Linked DNA regions of Homo sapiens. The protein of the gene in region 2 purifies or fractionates together with the protein of the main gene of each other region. This does not show direct contact. Each region holds a gene or a part of one and is shown on either strand. Other genes may lie near its edges. The genes, in order: RDX and MAPK10.

Evidence for each region.
Region 1: the proteins of MAPK10 (region 2) and RDX purify together in Homo sapiens (affinity purification with mass spectrometry; one large-scale study listed by BioGRID and IntAct). This does not show direct contact.

The regions. Positions count from the first base shown.
Region 1 is NC_000011.10:110,289,790-110,293,614, forward strand, and holds part of RDX (radixin), read right to left. Parts: intron 1-3,825. UniProt on the Homo sapiens protein: Probably plays a crucial role in the binding of the barbed end of actin filaments to the plasma membrane.
Region 2 is NC_000004.12:86,063,011-86,066,835, forward strand, and holds part of MAPK10 (mitogen-activated protein kinase 10), read right to left. Parts: intron 1,381-3,825; coding exon 1,256-1,380; intron 1-1,255. UniProt on the Homo sapiens protein: Serine/threonine-protein kinase involved in various processes such as neuronal proliferation, differentiation, migration and programmed cell death.

The DNA.
Region 1 (3,825 bases), on a different chromosome or scaffold from region 2:
TATAAAAATTAGTCAGACGTGGTGACCTGTTTGGTGGTGTGCATCTGTAGTCCCAACTACTCGGGACGCTGAGGCAGGTGAATTGCATGAATCCAGGAGGCAGAGGCTGCAATGAGCTGAGATCATGCCACTGCACTCCAGCCTGGGTGACAAAGTGAGACTGTCTCAAAAAAAAAAAAAAAAAAAAAAAAAACAAGGGTCCTTACGTTGCATTAATGCATCCACATTATTCCATGTACTCACCAGGATTTTTTGTTATAAACAAAAATACCCACTCTGGTTAACTTATTAAAAGATTATCAGTCAATTTACAAAAACAACAGGAAGATTTAACAAAGAAAAAAAAACAGAGGAAGCAAGAAACATCCAGAACTCACAGCACAGAATACTGTGCTTAAAATGCTGCTGCAAGGAGTATTAATTAACTTATACACACTACTGTGACACTTAACAGGCCAGGTGTGGTGGCTCACGCCTGTAATCCCAGCACTTTGGGAGGCTGAGGCGGGAGGATCACTTGAACCCAGGACAGCCTGGGCAACATGGTGAGACCCCGTGTCTACAAAAAATAAAAAAGCCGGGAGTGGTGGCAAGCTCCTATAGTTCCAGCTACTTGGGAGACTGAGGTGGAGGGATCACTTCAGCCTGGGAGGTCAAGGTCACAGTGAGCTATAATCAAGCCACCGCACTCTGGCCTGGGCAACAGAGACAGTCTCAAAAAGAAAAAAAAAAAAGCACTTAACACACTTTATGAATACAATATGGCACATCTATCTGCCCATTAGAGTGAGAACTCCTGAGTATTTTACTCATCTTTCCATTCTCAAATGCAAAGAGTATGTGGCATATAATAACTGTCCAAATGTACGACTGACATCTTAAAGCAGTGGTCGGCAAACTTTTTCCGTAAAGGGCCAGGTAAGTAAACATTATAAGCTTTGTAAGCCACACAGTCTCTGTTGAAACCATTCTACTGTTGTAGCAGGAAAGCAGCCATAGATAATATGTAAACAAGTCAGCTACGATGTGTTCAAATAAAACTTTATAAAAACAGGCAGTAGGCTGGGTTTAGCCCATGGACCACAATTTGCCAAGTATTTTAACAAGAATCAACACTTTTCCTTTCATAATTTAACTGAAGTTGGTACCTACAAAGATATGAGCTCACTACATATGACTATCTGTAATGGATCAATTTTGGATATGACTTTGGGTGGGGGTAAAAAAAGGACCGAAGACATGTAATATAGATGAATAATGAAAATAACAGGGCTGGGTGCAGTTGCCTGCACTTTAGGAGGCTGAGGCAGGAGGATCACTTGAGGCCAGAAGTTTGAGACTAGCCTGGGCAACATAGTGAAACTGTATCTCTAAAAAAAATTAAAATCAGCCAAGCATGGTGGTGTGCACATGTAGTCTTAGCTACTCCAGAGGCTGAGGTGGGAGGACTGCCTGAGCCCCGGAGTTCAAAGCCCTGGAGTTCGTGGCATGGAGCTATGATCATGCCACTGTACTCCAGCAGCAGAGAGGTGACAGTGACAGAGAGAAGGAGGGAGACAGGGAAAAAGGGAGGGACGGAGGGAGGAAGGAAAAAGAAAAAAGAAGTATCTATTGGGAACAGAGTTGGAAGAAAGGGCAATTCCATTACCCTTGCCAGTTGACTGGTTAGGTATAGAATGTGCCCCAATCCTGGCCAATGAGGCTCGAAAGACATCTGCTTGGGGGTTTCTGGAAACAGTTCCTCTTATTCCTTTGGATACTGCCCTGTCTGGATGGGATGCAGCAGCCAAACTGGGACAAGGGGCTAACTGCAGGCTTGACCTCCCAGGCTCAAGTGATACCCCAACCTCAGCATTCTGAGTAGCTGGGACTACAGGTCCACACCACCGCTCCTGGCTCCTTTGCAGCAGCCAAATTGAGATGGGTAAGGGCTGTCTTAGTATGAAGTTAATAGGGAAAATCACAGGGAAGAGAGTTGGAAAGAGAAGGAGTCCTTGATGTCATTATTGAACCATTCTTGAGCCTCTGGACTTTTAGTATGCAAGACATTAAATTTTGGCCAGGCATGGTGGCTCACACCTGTAATCCTCCCAGCACTTCAGGAGGCCGAGGCAGAAAGTCCAAGGCAGGAAGTCTGAGGCAGGATGATCATTTGAGACCAGCCTGGGCAACATAGGGATACCCCGTATCTACAAAAAGGCTTTTTAAAAAATTAGTTGTTGGCCAGGCACAGTGGTTCACACCTGTAATCCCAGCACACTGGGAGGCCAAGGCGGGCAGATCACTTGAGGTCAGGAGTTTGAGACCAGCCTGGCCAACATGGTAACACCCTGTCTCTACTAAAAATACAAAAATTAGCCGGGCCTGGTGGCATGTGCCTTAAATCCCAGCTACTAGGGAAGCTGAGGCAGGAGAATCGCTTGAACCCTGGAGGCAGAGGCTGTAGTGAGCTGAGATCATGCCACTGCATTCCAGCCTGGGCAACAGAGCGAGACCCTGTCTTGGAAAAAAAAAAAAAAAATTAGCTAGGCATGGTGGCACACGCCTGTGTTGGCAGCTACTAGGGAGACTGATGTGGGAGGAACTTAAAGGATCACTTGAGCCCAGGAGGTCAAGGCTGCAGTGAGCTGTAATAGTGCCACTGCACTCCAGCTTGGGTGACAGAGGAAGACTCTGTTTTCAAAAAAAAATGAAGAAAAAAATGACATTAAATTTCCTCATTGTTTAAACCAGTTGGAGAATTTTCTGCTATTTGATGCCAATGCATCTTAAAGGATCTAAGGGCTCAAAACTGAAGAGCGCTCACTTCACAAATTTACCTGCAGTCAGTCCTAGTTGACTTAAACTTTTCACAAATAAATTAAAAAAAAAAAACATTTAAGGTCCTGAAAGCCATAGAGATTATCTACAACTCAGAAGAAAACAGTCCATTATCTCAATTACTAATAGCTTTATAAATTCTATAATCTTAGAGAAAATAAACAATGAAGTACCTGTTTCTTCAATACTGTATCTAAAATATCCTTTCAACAGGATGTTTTTTCTAAGGAGTTGGCAAACTTTTTTTGTAAAGAGCAAGATGTGGCTATTTCCCACACCAAATTATAAACCTCCTTTTTTAAAAGACACCATTTCTCATTGTCAACTATATGCCATATGCTAGAAAACAAAAAGTAAACTTCATCTTCAATCATTAATCAAGAAAATCTGTACACAAACAAATTTGCACATACACACACTTGAGAATTAGCGTAGGGAATTCTATTGTGTGCTTTTATTCAAATGATGAAAACATGAGAAATATGATTTACTCAATGTTTAACACAAGTTAATAAGCATCCTTTCAATGTCTGTTACAATATAACCCTATTTTAACAAGACTTTAAAATCACAAATAAGGGATATAAAGTATATGTTTATCCCTGCATACCTACTGGCATTTTCTATAAACAAGGAATTGCCGACAGCAGCTACCTATGGAAAACAGGACTGGGAAAGGGGCTGGGGTGTTCCAGGGAGTAAGGAGGACTTTGACCTTTTCCTTGACATTTTTCTGAGTTTTTAAACTTTGCCATAAAATATATCACTTTTATAGTTTTTTTTAAATGGCTTAAGCTATACATTCAATATAAAGATATACACCAGGAACTTAAAGTAGGAAAGGCAGGATTTCTCTAAAATAGGCTAGAAATTGAGGAACTCTCTGGGGCCAGATTGGACACCTCTATCATCAAAGCAGTACGCACACCCTGGCTGCAGCAATCAAGGAAGTTACCAGAACAGTCTTCAGCTGGATCAGTAATGCCATGAGACTTAAAATAATCT
Region 2 (3,825 bases):
TTGTAAAACTAAGAGAGCAGATCTTAAACAAAATGTAGTGCAGTCTTCACACTTGGGAGATTCATTAATCACTTAAGTGTTTTCTCTGAAGTTTTTAAATGCTTAAAGATTGGGTTACATTATGAAAAGGACCTGTTTAATATTGTGTCTGTAAAGTTCAATTCTACCTAGTTCTCACTTTCTTTCGTATCTTCTCTAGTGAAGAATGAAGAAATGAGAATTATGTGTTTGAATCTAGCACCTCTGACATGGAAAAACACATGGTGAAGCAGAGGAAAGAAAACTGAAAGAAAGTGAAAATATCTTTAAGAATACTTTGGGGAAACAAACAGTATTTCAAATGAAAGATTAAGAACAAATCCAAACAAATGGATTGGAAGGTATTATGTAAAAAAATATGAGATGCTTTAGCACAGGTACTCTAAGAATTTGAGAAGCTTCTCATGTTTAAGGGAGAAGGTAACATTCCTGATAGAAACATTTAAAGGCAGTGCAGAAAGGAAATTCTCATCAGGAGGCCTATAGAACACACATGGGCAACAGCAAGCCCCCCTTGCCCTGCTCAGCCCTGGATCCATACAGAGGAAAGGAGAGAGGTAAAGATGAAAGAAAGAGGTTGAACAGAAGATAGTAAATGGTTGAAAAATATTTTTAAAATAGAAAGAGTTATGCTTCTGAGAAGATTCTCCATGTCTGGGTATCAGACATGGAGATACATCATACTGATCAACCTGAAGTAATGTACTTACTGAAATACCCACTTCTAGTTCATCTAGTTCATGCAAGGTTTCACAAAGCCACCAATCGTTTTAATCATCTTATAAAAGCTTTCTAATTGAAATATTCTTAAGTATCACATTTTACTAGTGGCAGGTATCTTTTCAAAAAAAAAATACAAGCTAAGCAACTTGTCCTCTGTTGTTTCCTACCACTAAGTTTGCATTAGAAGAGACTGGCAGTCAAACACACAAGAAGAAACACAAGTATTGGCAATTTAACAGAAACAAATGGTAGTGTATCATGGACATCTAAGGTTTGTAGGACTAAATCATACCCTCTTCTAGTAAGTCCTGAAAAAAATGTATTTAAAACATATGTTGAAGAAAATAGCTTTTAGAGGGGCAGATAATAGGCTTTGGACTTAGAAATTTTATAAAAATCCATTGTGCATTCTTTAGGCTTCTAGTCCTATTCAGTTTTTGCTATGAGCTATGATTTGTTTGTGGAAGCAAAGTAAAGGCAGCCTATTTCTTACCGCCTCCACTTCGGCTGGGTCATACCAGACGTTGATGTAGGGATGCTGTAAGGCGTCGTCCACTGATATTCTTTTTGCTGGGTCAATCACTAGCATCTTTGACAACAAGTCCCTGGCTTGGCTGGCTGAAACAATAAATGAGAAAAACAATTAGTAAGATTTTGATTTCAGTAAGGAAATTTGTCAGAGAGGAAATTTAAGAAAACAAAGTATGGAATAGTATCTTCCTTCCAAACATCAGGTAAATCCCTTGATGTGATGGAAAAGAAAATGCATTTTACACCTGTTTCTTTGTGTCTCTAAGCCTAAGGCTTCATTCTGAGGCTCTCCAAGGGTTGTAACACTTTGGGTATATAATTATTCACGCAAACTTCTTAGTAAAATGTATCAACCTGGAGAGTTTATGTAAGCAAAGTCATCTTCTTTGGTAACCTGCATGAATATAGGATAAACAGAATAAAGAGCACAGAGTGCAAATGCATGATGTTCAACAAATGTGTGGACGGCTGTTTGAAGTTAATCAACACGTGTGTCTCTATATTCTTATTTATACAACGGAATTATCAGAATTTTAGTATATAAATTGACTTAAGAGTTTGTATCATACAAATTTTTCTTTTCTTTTTGTTTTTGTTTATTTATTTATTTATTTATTTTTGAGACAGGGTATCCCTCTGTTGCCAGGCTGGAGTGTAGTGGAATGATCACAGCTCACTGCAGCCTGGAACTCCTGCGCTCAAAGGATCCTCCCATCCCAGCTTCCCGAGTAACTGGAACTACAGGCATGCACCACCATGCCTGGCTATTTTTTCTTTCTTTCTTTTTTTTTGTAAAGATAAGATCTCCCTACATTGCCCAAGCTGGTCTCGAACTCTGGGCTCAAAGATCCTCCCACCTCAGCCTCCCAAAATGCTGGGATTAAAGGAGTGAGCCACTGCTCCCAGCCACAAATTTCTTATATACATAAAAACAATCAAAGAATTGAAGTGATAGAAATAATATCATTCAACTACTGAATTTTATTTTAACATTCTGTAATCATCAGGTATTTTTAATCAATGGAATCATGACTTGATGAAATCCAGTAGTTAAAGACTGAAGCCAGTCTAATGCTACACCAGACACTAATGAGAAACTCTATATTATGTAAAGGTTATCATAATTAATTTTATGGTTGTGGGCAGTAACAGTTATAAAATTATATGGTGATAGCTATTTATTTAGTAAGATTGTTAAAAGACACATTAATTTTAACCTCTAAAAATATGTAAATTTTTTAAATTATTATACTTTAAGTTCTGGGATACATGTGCACAACATGCAGGTTTGTTACATAGGTATACACATGCCATAGTGGTTTGCTGCACCCACCAACCTGTCATCTACATTAGGTATTTCTCCTAAAGCTATCCCTCCCCTAGTCTTTTACATAAAGTTTTAACAGAAATGAATATCTCAAATCAATATTGTTACTCAACTGATCTGAAAGTTGAACCGTGAAAATATTCAGTTTATTCTAACTATATGGTAAAACATCAAATTAAAGATAACAAAATTTAAATGGATTTTTCAAAAAATCAACATAGATGACTCTGGATACATATCAATTTTTATTTAATCAATTTTTCAGATTAAAACAACTTGGCTAATTCTACAAATTTGAAAATTATATAAAATACAAAAATCAGGAAATAATATCTAACCCCACTAGCTAGAGGCAATGACTGTGATTATTGGCATATTTTTTCTAGTGCCGTTCATGTATTTTTCACGTAATATTAACCATACTATAGTTAAAATGTAGCAATTAATTTTTTACCTGTAAGTATTTTCTTGGTAATTACATCAATAAATATATCTTTTAATTTTCTGAACAAATATGAAAAATCACTAGTTAAACTTGAGAATTTTTTATTTCTATTAATCATTTTTCTGGGAAACTCAATCCTAGAAACTGATTATCATTACTTTCAAATTAAAACTCTGTACCGCACAGGAATAACAAAAATACAGAAATACTTATACATTAATTCAATATTTAATTTTTCTCATTGCCAATGGCCTCCTAATAGCCTAACAGGGCTGTGTTTATTTATTCATTGCTTTAAAGACCTCTTTAATTTGTAACTGATTTTACATCCAAATTCATGTACCATTCTCATAAGATTCTCTCATCAAATCTATCCATTTTTCTGCTCTTAGAAAGGGCTGGGGTTAGCCGGGCGTGGTCGTGGCTGACACCTGCAATCCCAGCACTTTGGAAGGCCGAGGCAGGCAGACCACGAAGTCAGGAGGTCGAGACGATCCTGGCTACCACGGTGAAACCCCATCTCTACTAAAAATACAAAAATTAGCTGGGCGTGGTGGCGGGCGCCTGTAGTCCCAGCTACTCGGGAGGTTGAGGCAGGAGAATGGAGTGAACCTGGGAGACGGAGCTTGCAGTGAGCCTAGATCGGTATCCCGGGCGACAGAGCGAGACTCTGTCTCAAAAAAAAAAAAAAAAAAAAAAAGAAAGGGCTGGGGTTACAATGGATTCTTCATGAATAGGGTCATGAACTACACCAATACAA